Linked DNA regions of Homo sapiens. The protein of the gene in region 1 purifies or fractionates together with the protein of each later gene. This does not show direct contact. Each region holds a gene or a part of one and is shown on either strand. Other genes may lie near its edges.

Region 1 (3,500 bases):
GTAAGACCCTGTAACACTCTCTAGCTGCACCGTATGATGTTCAGCAGCATCCGTGGCCTCTACCCACCAGTAGACAAGATGAGTAGACACAAACTCCACTGTCCATCCTGAGCCTGTTGGCAGGGATCTGTGTGGCGTTTATCCCTGTCCCCTTTGTCTGAGAAGCCAGGACTCCCAGCTCATCCCTTGCCACATTTGGCCTGACCCATCCCCTTGTGAGACCTCACCTCCCCTTCTCCTCACCTCCTGCACATCCCTCCACTGAGCCTTGTGGGACTCAGGGCTCAGCAGACCCGCCAGGTCCTGAGTGTTCCCTGCTCGGACTGAGCTCCAGGGGACTGCAGCCCTCTGAGTGCTTGTCATCCTCTTCCCTGCCTCTGTCTTGAGCCCAGGCCCACTGGGACAGGGTCCTCACCCCTCAGATTGTGCCTCTGCCAGCCTCAATCCCTCTCTAGAGACCTTGCCTTTGGGTCCCAGGCCTTGTCTTTTTGCTACTTCTGCAGACCTTCCCTCTCTTCTCAACACTCTTCCTGCCCTCAGTCTTGGCCATGGCAGCCTCCTTGTTGATTGTCCTGTGCCCCCCCAACCCATCCCACAGCCATCCGTGACTGTGACGACAGTGACTTTACCATACCCACCATCTCCATCTCCAGCACACCACTCCCTGGCCGCCTCCTGCCGTCCCTTCAATTCCGTCTGGTGTCCTGATTCCAGCAGTTTTCCAGTCCTTCAAGACCTGCAAGCCATCGACCCTGCTGCCTTTTCACTGCCCTGACTCATCCTCATTTCCCTCCATGCCCACCATTGTGGTCCCCCCTTACACACACCCTCAGCACTCTTGCCCCTGTTTTGTTCATTGTATCCACTTAGTGAAATCCATCGGTGTTCTGCACCTGCAGCCAAGCAGCTGCACGTGGCTGCAGAGAACCAGGTAAGCTGGCTGCTGGTGTCACGTGACATTCATGACCAGCGACTTCAGTGGGCGCTCTGCCACACAGTCACACCGTGTCTCCTTAGCCCAGGGGCCAGCAAACTGTGGCTGAGGGCCAAACCTAGCTCATCTGTTTCTGTATGGTGCACAGCTGAGAACAGTTTTATATTTTAACCCGTTTTTTAAAAGAGAAACGCACCACTCACACAGCCCTCTCCACGCCATCTGCCTGCACCAGTGCCCCCTTCTCTGCCTTCACTTCTGTGACTGCTAAACTGTCAACCCTCCAGCCAAAGCCCCACTTCGATCTGGCACCAGATCCCACCTCATGCCATCTTCTCAAGGGCAATACAAGCAATCCTGCCTTGACCTCTACCCCGGCAGCCACTGCCCGCTTGTCTGTTCCCCTTTGTGGCAGAGCCCTTGGGGACATCTGCGCTTGCTGTCTCCTGCACCTTCCCCCCCACTCTGTTACCCCTTCCACCAAAACCTCTCCAACCTCGGTTACCAGGGCCCTCCGTGGTCCTGAATGGTCTGTCTTCTTACTTGGCCTTGTCCCCTCTACTCTGCCACGTAGGCCCGTCATCTCCTGCCAGCCCCTCTCCTCCTGCCCTGATCCCCCAGTCTTGCCTCAGCCCAGCAGAGTAATCCCTTTTAGACCCAAGTCCTGGCTTTCCATCTGACCCGCACCGTCAGCTCACCACCTCCACTTTTCTCTCACTCTGCCCAGCTGCAGAGTGCTGTTCCCTGGTGCTGTTCCCTCCGCCCTGTGCCAGGGCCTTCGCAGTGCCCTCTACTGGGAATCCTCCTCAGGCAGGTCCCACCTGCAGGCCTTTCGTGTCATCGGCACTGCAGGCCCTCCCCACCCAGGACTCCAGGCCTACTTTCCTGCTTTGGGTCTTCCGTGTTAGACAGTGTCACATAATATATATGTTTCCTATTTATAGATTCATCGTATGTCAGGTCTCCTCCATTAGAATGTCAATTTCAAAAGTATAAAAATTTTTACCTGTTTAATCATTTTAGGAACCTAGAGTATTGCCTAGTACAGAGTAGGAATTCAATAACTATTTGCTGAATGTATGCTGTTTCAAAATTTAAAACGTGTGTGTGTGTGTGTGTGTGTGTGTGTGTGTGTGTGTGTGAAATAATGTATTTCTGATAGCATTTAAATTCCTTTTTAGGTCTCCCAGGCCTCCCTAGGAATTTTCTGTTTATTCTTTCTATCCACATTTTAAAACGTCTGCTGTGTACTTTGGTAGCTGTAAACAATATATAATACGGTTTTTTGTGTTCTGAAAAATTACATAGATGTCATTATATTTATCACTCATTATTCTGTATTTCAGACTTATCCATGTTGATACATGTAGATCAAGTTCATTCCTTTTAACAGATGCTTAATATTCCAGAAGCAACTATATTGTAACTTATTTTCCATTCCTCCACTGATTGGCACTTAAGCTTTTTCTGATTGTTCACTCTCACAAGCAATACTGTAGTGAGCGTTCTTGCGCCTGTTTTTTTGTGGCCCTGTGGGGATGCTGCTCCAGGGAGTAGACCCAGCGGTGGCCTCACCACGTCGTAGGCTTGATTTCATCTCTTCCGTTACTGTATGGCCCTCCCCAGGGGTACCCAGTGCCAGCGGGTGCTCCTAGAACTTGCTTCCTAACGTCTGCCCAGTTTCCATAATTACATTTTTGCCGACCTGATGGGGGTGAGATGGCCTCTCGTTTCAACTTGTATTTTCCCCCTTAAGTTGCACGCCCTTTTTATACGATTATTTGGCTGCTTCTCCAGTGAGTTGTCTTCTGTTTTTCTATTGAGATATTCTTCATTTTCTTCTTGATTCAGGGCTTCTTTGTATGTGTTCTAGATACAAATCCTTTGTCTATTATTTGTGTTACAAACATTTTCTCCGTGTCGGTGGCAGGTCTTTAACGTTGTAGTTCTTGTATGGAAGTTTTCACTGTTGAAAGAGTCAAACATGTCAGTCTTTTCCTTTATGATCTGTGCTTTTTCTGTAGTGAGATATCCTTGCTTACCTCACTCAAGGTCAGAAAGATACTCTTCTCTATTTTTTTTATAAATTTTTAAAAGTTTTGCTTTTCAAATTTAAGTCTTTAATTTATCTAGAATTAAAATTTGTGTAGCTTGCAAGGGAGGGTTTCAGTTTTTTCTCCCACAACGATGGTCTCATTTTCCAACAAAGTTTGCTGAATGTGTTAGCTTTTCTCCACTGATTTGTGATGCGATTCTGTCCTGAGCTGGTTTCTGCATGTGCACAAGTCTGTTTCTGGGTGCTTGCTTCTGTGTCATTGGTCTCTTTGTCAGTCTCTGCACCAACAGCTTGCTCTTTTAGCTTCATAATAAGCCTTGATATCTAGTAGACTAATCCTTCTCTGCTTGTTCTTCAAAAAACTGTCTTGGCTATTCTTGGATATTTGTTCTTTTATATGAATTTTGGGATCTGTATGTCAAGTTCCTAAGAAAATCCTGTTGGAAATTTGATTGGAATTGCATTGACTTTACAGTCTAATTTCTGGAGAATTGCTCTCATGACAACATT
Region 2 (3,500 bases), 250 kb from region 1:
TGTAAACAGAATATGAAGTGGAAAAAGGTCAAGAACCCCAAAATAAAACTGCAGATTGTAAATCATTCATGGAAGCGGAAATGCAGGCAGTCAATAAACAAATGAAAACACAACCACCTTACAATCAGGAATCCAAATATAACTAAGTGAAAGCACGTTCACCCATCAGACTGACAAACATGAAACAGACACAAAGAATAACATTCAGAGCTGACTATAATGTGGTAAACTGACTCTCATAACACTCCTGGAAGGAATGAAAAATACTACACACTCTTAGGGGAAGAAAAATTTCAAGTCATTAAAAACCCTTTTACCTAGCAATCCCACTTGGGGAATCTATGGCTGGGCACAGTGGCTCGAGTCTGTAATCCCAGCACTTCGGGAGGCTTGAGGCGGGAGGACAGCTTGAGCCCAGGAGTTCAAGAACAGCCAGGGCAAGATGGTGAAATCCCATCTCTACAAAAAGACAATAAAATTAGCCAGGCATGATGACAGGTGCCTATAGTTCCAGCCACTCAGGAAGCTGAGGTGGGAAGATCACTTGAGCCCAGGGGATTGAGGCTGCAGGAAGCCATGATCACACCACTTCCCTCCAGTGACAGAGAGAGATTCTGTCTCAAATAAATAAAGACACGGTCTCACTCTGTCACCCAGGCTGGAGGGCAGTGGCACGATTATACGTCCTGGTATTACAGGCATGAGTCACCCCACCCAACAGAAAAGTGACACATTTAGGATGAATTTCAATTCATAAACATAGTATGCAAATCCTTTTTTTTTTTTTTTTTCTGAGATGGAGTCTCTCGCTCTGTCGCCCAGGCTGCAGGCTGGAGTGCAGTGGCATGATCTCAGCTTACTGCAACCTCTGTCTCAGGTTCAAGTGATTCTCCTGCCTCAGCCTCCCAAGTAGCTGGGATTACAGGTGTGTGCCACCACTCCTGGTTAATTTTTCTGTATTTTTAGTAGGGACAGGGTTTCACCATGTTGCCCAGGCGGGTCTCAAACTCCTGACCTCAAATGATCCACCTGCCTCAGCCTCCCAAAGTGCTAGGATTATAGGCATGAGCCACCATGCCCAGCCTTTTGAGACTCCATTTTTAATATCTTTCAATGTTTTAACATTTTCCCTAGGTATCTATTCCAACCATCAACTCCTGTATGACAAATAATCCCCAAATTTAGTGGCTTAAGACATCATCATCTACTTTGCATGTGAATCTGCAGTTAAAGGAGGGTGGCACATGGATGGTTCGTCTCTGCTCCACTCTCTGTCAAGTGGGGCAAATCACAGGCAGCCAGGTGCTAGAATCCCTTGAGAAATCCCAAGCCACATGAAGAGGGTGCATGAAGTGTTCTGTTCAACGGCCTTACCTACAATCTCAGTCTACACACCAGCATCAACCAATAGACATGGGAATGCACACATTTTCATTCCCAATAGGTTTTTATTTTTGCCTCCTCTCTTTTGTTTTCATTTTGTCTCTACACTTTGATATTATATACTGATAGATATATGGATTAAAAAAATCATTTCTGGCCAGGTGCAGTGGCTCACGCCCATAATTCCAGCCCTTTGGGAGGCCAAGGTGGGCGGATCATGAGGTCAGGAGATCGCGACCATCCTGGCTAACATGGTGAAACCCCATCTCTACTAAAAATACAAAAGAATTAGCCGGGCGTGGTGACGGGCTCCTGCAGTCCCAGCCACTGGGGAGGCTGAGGCAGGAGAATGGCATGAACCCGGGAGGCGGAGCTTGCAGTGAGCCGAGATCGCACCACTGCACTCCAGTCTGGGCAACAGAGAGAGACTCTGTCTCAGAAAAAAAATAAAAATAAAAATAAAAATAATCATTTCTGTACCTGTGCTTCCAATATAATATCCACTAGTCACATGTGGCTGGTTAAATAAAATTAGCCGGGCACAGTGGCTCGTGCCTGTAACCCCAACCCTTTGGGAGGCCAAGACAGCCGGATCACTTGAGGTCAGGAGTTCAAGACCAGCCTGACCAACATGATGAAACCCTGTCTCTACTAAAAATACAAAATTAGCCGGGTGTGGTGGCACATGACTGTAATCCCAGATACTCAGGAGGCTGAGGCAGAAGAATCACTTGAAACTGGGAGGCAGAGGTTGCAAGGTTGCAGTGAGCCAAGATTGCACCACTCTACTCCAGCCTGGGTGACAGAGTGAGAGTCTGTCTCAAAATAAATAAATAAAATTTAAAACTCAGTTCCTCAATCATACTAGCTAACATTTCAAGTGCTCAAAAGCCACATGTGCCTAGTGGCCACTGTATTAAACAGTGCAGAGCAGAACATTTCTATCATCTTGGGAAGTTCTACTGGATGCACTACACCCTTATAAGTCTTTTCTATTTGATAAAATACTAAGGTTGTATTAAAATCTCCTATTATAACAGTGAATCTTTCTCGCAATTCTGTCAGTTTTGTTTTATATATTTTTAGGCTATGTAATTAGGTGCATACAGGTTTAGAAATTTTGTATCTAGCTGGTAAATTGAGTCTTTTACCATTACAAAAGTAGTAGGAGCCTTCTATCTCTAAAGATACTAAATATATTTGTCAACTTTATTTTCATTAGTATTTGCTTGGCATATTTTTTCATGACCTTTTATATTCAACTGTTTCTATATCCTTATCTTTTAGTTGTATCTCTCTCTCTCTCTCTTTTTTTTTTTTTTTTTTTTTTTTTTGAGACGGAGTCTCACTCTGTCACCCAGGCTGGAGTGCAGTGGCGCAATCTTGGCTCACTGCAACCTTTGCCTCCCAGGTTCAAGTGATTTTCCTGCCTCAGCAACCTCCGCCTCCTGGGTTCACGCCAGTCTCCTGCCTCAGCCTCCCAAGAAGCTGGGACTACAGGCACCCACCATCACATCTGGCTAATTTTTTGTATTTCTAGTAGAGACGGAATTTCACTGTGTTAGCCAGGATGGTCTCAATTTCCTGACCTCATGATCCACCCAACTTTGCCTCCCAAAGTGCTGGGATTACAGGCGTGAGCCACCACGCCCAGCCGGTTGTAACTCTTTTAAACCATCTAGTTGGATTTTTCCCCCATCCTGACAATCTATGCCTTTTAACTTGAACATTTCATTCATTTACATTTATTGTAATTGTTCATTAGCTTTGATTTATTTTTACCTTTTTTGTGCTATTTATCCCATCTTTCTTCTCTACTTTCTTGTCTTCTTTTACATTAATTTTTTCTTATTCCATTATCCCCCTTTCTGATCTGTAAGTTATACGACCAATTTCGAGTTGTTTAGCAAGTATCCTAGAAATTATGGGAAACATACATAGAAGGCCCTTTAACAAAGCCCTTTAAACACTTTAGTTCTGATCATCTCTTCCTCATATTTACATCAATGCCATCATGTATTTTAATTGTTTTTAACACAACAAGAAATTGTTACGTTTTATTAAGTCACTATTTGTTTAGATTTAACCATTTCCATGCATCATCACATCTTCTCATA
Region 3 (3,002 bases), on another chromosome or scaffold:
TGGGAGGTCTCCATGCTCTTTGAATGGCAGATGCAACCTAACTACCGTAGTCTCTAAACTGAGTATGGAAGGTGGCCTGATCAGATGTCAAATAAAAGAACAGTATGTACCTTTTTATCTTTGAACCTCCTCCTTGAGAGCAGCAACAAGTTTCTGTTATCTGACTGGCTGTCAGTTCAACCAAAGTGAAAAATCAAGCCACTTCTATGTAAAAAAGGGACCCAGTGAGGGCTCTGTAGCTCTTAAATACCTCCAGTATCCAGTAAACAGTATGTCTGTATTTAACATTTGACACTTATAAAATTCAACTTATATGCCTAGTCTCCGTAACTATACAGTGAGTGACTGAGGAGCCACTTTTAAGAAATTAAGGAACAACAGTTTTATTTGTAATAGTACCAAACTGGAAACAACTAAAATATCCTTCAATAGGTACATGGTTAAACCACATGGCACATCAATACCAGTTAAACCACGTGGCACATCAATACCATGGAATACTATTTGGCAATAAAAAAGGAATTAACTACTGATCATATATATATATATATCTATCTCTCAACTTGGATGGCTCTCAAGAGCATTGTGATGAATGAAAAAAGCTAATCTCAAAGGTTGTGTATTATGTAATTCCATTTATATAACATTCTCATAATGACAAAATATAGCGATGAGGAACAGATTAGTGGTTCCTAGGGTTAGAGTTGGTTGGGAGTAGGTATGGCTACAAAAAGGTAGCATGAGGGAGATCATGATGATAGTTCTCTATCTTGGCTGCAGTGATGGTTACACAAATCTACACGTGATAAAATGGTAGGGAGCTATTTGTACACACATTGTACCAATGTCAACATCCTGGTTTTGATACTGTACCATAGTAAGACAAAGTGAAAAAATTGAGGGAAACAGGGTTCAGCCTACAGGGACTTCTCTGTACTATTTTTGCAAATTCCTCTGAATATAATTATTCCAAAAAAGAAAGTTAAAAAAACACAAACTTGCACATGCAAGAAAACTGACAGCAAGATAAAATGAATCAATTTTATTCCAATTCTTCAAAATTTATACGTAATATGTTGTTTCCAAAATGTAAGTCACCCTTTATATAATAGTTTTATTATTTCATCTTTCTTTGATAGTTTTTTTTTTCATCTTTTCTTTATGGTTCTTCAGTAGAAGCCAGAATCTTGAGTTGCCCAGTTAGGAGCCTAAAATATGCAAAAAGAAATCAACACCGTGAAAAGAAAATACTTTCGGAAAAAAACTAACATAGAAGAAAGTAACACAGCATTTACTTCAGCACTATAGTCTCTTGCCAAACCATTCTAAGATCTTAACTCCTGCAATTACTAGATGTCAGATGTCCCACTCAGGACAAAACAAACACCAAAATTATTATCTGGTATAGCTTTTGGCCAATTAAAATATATAGCAATAACAGTATCATTAATACTGGAACAATAAATGATACAAATTAATCCTAAAGCATACAGAAAAAAACATCATATGAAAGTTACTTTCTAGGCTCAGTTATTCTAAACTTGGCTAAAATATGCAACTTGAATTCTAATGCATCCTTCTCATTTGAACTAAAGGATTATTCTGCGGACACAAATTTGTTCCTAAAATTTCAATCAAATGGGGTCTCTGCATATCCCACAACTGCTTCCTAATGACTTCCTACCCTCCAGTTACACATAATCATAATGTCTAAACAACACAGTTTAGGATTCCAAAATTATAAGGCCATTCAAGTTTCTTCAATCTCTAACATGCAGGATCTCTATCAAAATGGGAGATTAATTTTTGATATGAATATCAGATGAAAGATAATGAAATTTGTATAAGATCAGCACTAATACATATAATAAGATCAACATTTTTACAGAATTATTTCTTTAGATTTAGAAAGAATACACATTTCGAACACTTGAAAGAGGGCTACACATGTAAGTTATCATCTGCCAGTATCAAAATGATGTGTTGAAAACCCTGAGGAAATGAGTTAATGAAGTCACACAGGAAGAGTCAAAGCAAAAGAAAAATAGTTATAATAAACTAGGAACACAATTTCTTTTTCAGTTTCTATGTTTAATGCATATAATACATCTAAGAAAAAATTTTCTGTTTAGTAATTTCTTAAAAATGTTCATATCTTTAAAGAGAAAAACAAAATCAGCTACAACTCATCAATACACTTTGAAACTTCATGTAACAATTACATGGTTGCTAAACCCCAGACAGAATAGAAGATGTGTGGTTCTTACCTCTGACCTGCTATTCTGATTAAGTTTCTTCTCAATATTCATGGCCAACATCTGGCTTCTAAAGGAAAGGCTTTTGGTCTTTTCAATCACTTGCTGATAGGGTGAGACTGCATTGTTACCCATAACCACATGACCCTAAAAGGAAACACAGGGAAATTGATCCTATAATGTTAATGACTGAGTTTCTCAGGTAAGTAAAAAGCATGACATACCTTTGCGCATATTTTAATGCACTGTATAGAGATGACAATATTTACCAAGGAAGAAAAAAAATAGGAGGCTTCTGTTGCCTTCAAAGAACTGTTTTACATTAAAACAAAATAAATTATTAAAGGAGGTAATAAAATGTCCTAGTTAAGAATTCCCAAAAGTATAATCAGGAACTGATAGTATGTAGCATAGCTAACATAATACTCACTAATTTAGAATCAATCTTGGCATCCAGTCTTGCATTTCTAATCAAATTTACAATCCACCTTTCAGCTTCTTCTGGAGTCATGTTCAATTTATCTGCCAACATGCTAATGAAAAAGTAAAAACAGCAATGTTAATTAACTGGGCCTAAAAACTTAGTTTTATGTACACAGTGTTGACTCACACTCTGCATAGATACTTTTTGGTATTTCTGGATCACCCTTCTCTTATATACCATGACCCCTACTGTCTGATTTGTTCATGTGCTTGTGCCTATTGACTTGTACTATGCACGACCTATTCCATTCACCAACTGGACTG
Region 4 (3,500 bases), about 150 Mb from region 1:
CAGTACCCACACTATGGTCACACTAACAAAATCCTATTTCTAGGAATACACATTCAGGGCTAAAGGGACATGTTATTTCAACTCACTCCCAAATGGCTCAGGAAAAAATATCTGTATAGGAGATGATGACGTAAATGCAACCAAATGTGAGAAGATCTCAGTAAAAAGCTTATTAGCGTTCTGCATACTCCCGTATTTTTCTACTAAGTTTGAAATGCTACAAAATGAAAGATCACCTGTAGAAGGCTGGCATGGGGTGAAATGCATAGACTCCCCTGTGTTTTTCTAGCAGCTTACCTTTCACAAGGTGAGAAGTCAATAAGCTGAACCCCTTGGTGGCTGAATCTCTGAATTTGCTTGAATTTCTCTCCCCCCCATAGAGCAATGCCTCTTTGATGAAAGGTAGCCAGGTAGGTGCCCTTAGGAGACCAACGCACATACGTCTCTGTCCATCTCTGCAGAAAAAGGCAGTGCCAACGTTAATACAACAAAATGGCAAACACAAAGACCCCTCCTACAATGAATTTATCCTACAATGAATCTGTTCTACAAACTTTTTTTTTTTTTGAGACGGAGTCTCGCTGTCTCCCAGGCTGGAGTGCAGTGGCGCAATCTCAGCTCACTGCAAGCTCCACCTCCCAGGTTCATGCCATTCTCCTGCCTCAGCCTCCCGAGTAGCGGGGACTACAGGTGCCTGCCACCATGCCCAGCTAATTTTTTTGTATTTTTAGTAGAGACGGGGTTTCACCGTGTTAGCCAGGATGGTCTCAATCTCCTGACCTCGTGATCCACCCACCTTGGCCTCCCAAAGTGCTGGGATTACAGGCGTGAGCCACCGCGCCCGGCCTATTCTGCAAACTCTTAAGTGAAATACACAAAGCCTGTTCACTTCTCAGGATTTACTTCAAAGCTGGAAGAGGAATAAAAGAAGTTGTTTTCAGAAAGTAATCTCAAAGAAAATATAACGTCACCTGCTCTTCCAGTTTTCTGATAGAAACAAAGTTCCACTTTGTTAAGGAAATACAGGAGAGGTGAGTCCCCGCCCCCAGCAGCAGCAAATACACACCGCTCTTTCTTCAATTGAGACAGGGTCTTTTACGTCATTCCAGAATATGGAAGTGCGGTCTCCACTCTCAAAAATCACACTGTACTGATCTCTGCATTCTGCCTCTTCAAGCCAGTAACGTAAGTTCCCCTTAAAAACAAAGACAAGGAATATAACATTTCATTAATTTTAATAAAAAACTCATTCACAACTATTGCTCTTAAAGATATGACAAGTTCAGTCCACATCTTAACTCCCAAGTCACACCCTAACCTCAAGTCAAGACACCGTCTAGCATTTCTTTTTTTTTTGAGACAGAGTCACGCTGTTGCCCAGGCTGGAGTCCAGTGGCACAATCATAGCTCACGGCAGCCTCAACCTCCCAGGCTCAACCTCCCAGGCTCAAGTGATCCTCCCCCCTCAGCCTCCCAGGTAGCTGGGAATACAGGTGCATGCCAGGCCCAGCTAATGTATGTATTTATTTACTTTTTGTAGAGGCGGGGGTCTCACTTTGTTGCCCAGGCTGGTCTTGAATTCCTGGGCTTAAGCGATCCTCCCACCTCAGCCTCCCTAAGTGCTGGGATTGCAGGTGTGACCCACCACACCCAGCAGCATTTCTTTAAACCACTGAGATGTAGGTTTCAGGCCACTCACCAGGTCTTTGAAAGGCTGTTTCTCTGGAATATCCCACTCGTCACTGATCGTCATATACCTGGAGAAGAAAGGAGACTGCTGAGCCCCACGCCCTGACGACTAGAAAGAGCAACTCGTGGGGGCTCCAGCATGGCCCTGCTGTGCTCCTGCCTGCCCGCCCCCAGGGCTGTGACTGGCATAACAGGGAGGGGTGCTGTAGGCCAGAAGTGTGGGGCAGGGCTGTGAAATGGCTCTGCGGCAGCCTGACCAGAAAGGATGTGAACAATCTGACAGACACCAGCACCGAGAAGCACCAAGCCACCCGCACACAGCCAGTCACTTGCACGTCAACGTCCACTTCCTTGTGGCCAAGTCTGAACTCACTTGTCAAAATCCGTAAAGAGGTTGACCCGGAATGTGTGCTGCTTGTCAAGCTTGTAGCCGTCGGCGTTCTTCACAGCATCCACAGCGTGGGCAGGGGACGCGTACTCCAGGAAAATATACCTGAGTGAGAGAGGGCCGTTGGCACATACCCACACTGTAAGGCTAGGCAGGTATGCGCTGTCCGCCCCACCCCTCTCCACGGACAAGCCCTCGGTGCCAGGAGTATCTGTGCTGCTCTTCCTGCCTCGAGCCTAAGGCAGTCACACGGGGGACAGATCCACAGCCAGGGAGCTCCTAAGTGACAGGGAAATCCTAACCAGAAGATCCGAAGTCTCTAGTTTCATTATCATAATTATAGAAAAGTTAATCAAAACGTCCATTATTTTGACTGTGGCGATGGTTTCGTGATATGTACACATCAAAATGTATTAAATTGTACGCTTTAAAACTATGCAGATTTACTGTATATCAATTATCTCAATAAAGCTGTTTAAAAAAAAATCTTGGCTGGGCGCAATGGTTCACACCTGTAATCCCAGCACTTTGGGAGGCCAAGGTGGGCAGATCACTTGAGGTCAGGAGTTCGAGACCAGCCCGGCCAACATGGTGAAACCCTGTCTCTGCTAAATATACAAAAATTAGCCGGGCATGGTGGCACATGCTTATAATCCCAGCTACTCAGGAGGCTAAGGCAGGAGAATTGCTTGAGCCTGGGAGGCGGAGGTTGCAGTGAGCCAAGATCGTGCCACTGCACTCCAGCCTGGGTGACAGAGCAAGACTCTGTCTCAATAAATAAATAAATAAATAAATAAGCAAGCAAGCAAGCCAGGCGTGGTAGTGTGCGCCTGTAATCCCGGCTACTTGGGAGGGTGGGGCAGGAGAATTGCTTGAACCCGGGAGGCGGAGGTTGCAGTGAGCTGAGATCACACCACTGCACTCCAGCCTGGGCAAGAGTGAGACTGTCTCAAACAAACAAACAAACAAAAAAAACTTAAAAGTAGTCTAATATTGTGTATTACAGGCAAGATTAGAAAGAAGCTCAGAGAGGCCGGGCGCGGTGGCTCAGGCCTGTAATCCCAGCACTTTGGGAGGCCGAGGCGGGTGGATCACAAGGTCAGGAGATCGAGACCATTCTGGCTAACATGGTGAAACCCCGTCTCTACTAAAAATACAAAAAATTAGCCGGGCGTGGTAGCGGGCGCCAGTAGTCCCAGCTACTAGGGAGGCTGAGGCGGGAGAATAGTGTGAACCTGGGAGGCGGAGCTTTCAGTGAGCCGAGATTGCGACACTGCACTCCAGCCTGGGCGACAGAGCGAGACTCCGACTCAAAAAAAAGAAAGAAAGAAAGAACCTCAGAGAATGTTTCATTATAACACGAGTAACTGAGGGTCAAGAGGCCATCCTTCAACTGACTGCCCAACACAGAAAATGCAGCAGC

The links.
Region 2: the proteins of ZNF746 (region 1) and ZNF212 purify together in Homo sapiens (affinity purification with mass spectrometry; 3 studies listed by BioGRID and IntAct, with this or other methods). This does not show direct contact.
Region 3: the proteins of ZNF746 (region 1) and EIF3E purify together in Homo sapiens (affinity purification with mass spectrometry; 2 studies listed by BioGRID and IntAct, with this or other methods). This does not show direct contact.
Region 4: the proteins of ZNF746 (region 1) and EIF3B purify together in Homo sapiens (affinity purification with mass spectrometry; 2 studies listed by BioGRID and IntAct, with this or other methods). This does not show direct contact.

The regions. Positions count from the first base shown.
Region 1 is NC_000007.14:149,487,810-149,491,309, reverse strand, and holds part of ZNF746 (zinc finger protein 746), read left to right. Parts: intron 1-3,500.
Region 2 is NC_000007.14:149,242,651-149,246,150, reverse strand, and holds part of ZNF212 (zinc finger protein 212), read right to left. Parts: intron 1-3,500.
Region 3 is NC_000008.11:108,200,716-108,203,717, forward strand, and holds the end of EIF3E (eukaryotic translation initiation factor 3 subunit E), read right to left. Parts: intron 2,789-3,002; coding exon 2,686-2,788; intron 2,403-2,685; coding exon 2,268-2,402; intron 1,209-2,267; coding exon 1,170-1,208; 3' UTR 501-1,169; downstream 1-500. UniProt on the Homo sapiens protein: Component of the eukaryotic translation initiation factor 3 (eIF-3) complex, which is required for several steps in the initiation of protein synthesis.
Region 4 is NC_000007.14:2,361,327-2,364,826, reverse strand, and holds part of EIF3B (eukaryotic translation initiation factor 3 subunit B), read right to left. Parts: intron 2,183-3,500; coding exon 2,063-2,182; intron 1,758-2,062; coding exon 1,700-1,757; intron 1,196-1,699; coding exon 1,067-1,195; intron 456-1,066; coding exon 298-455; intron 1-297.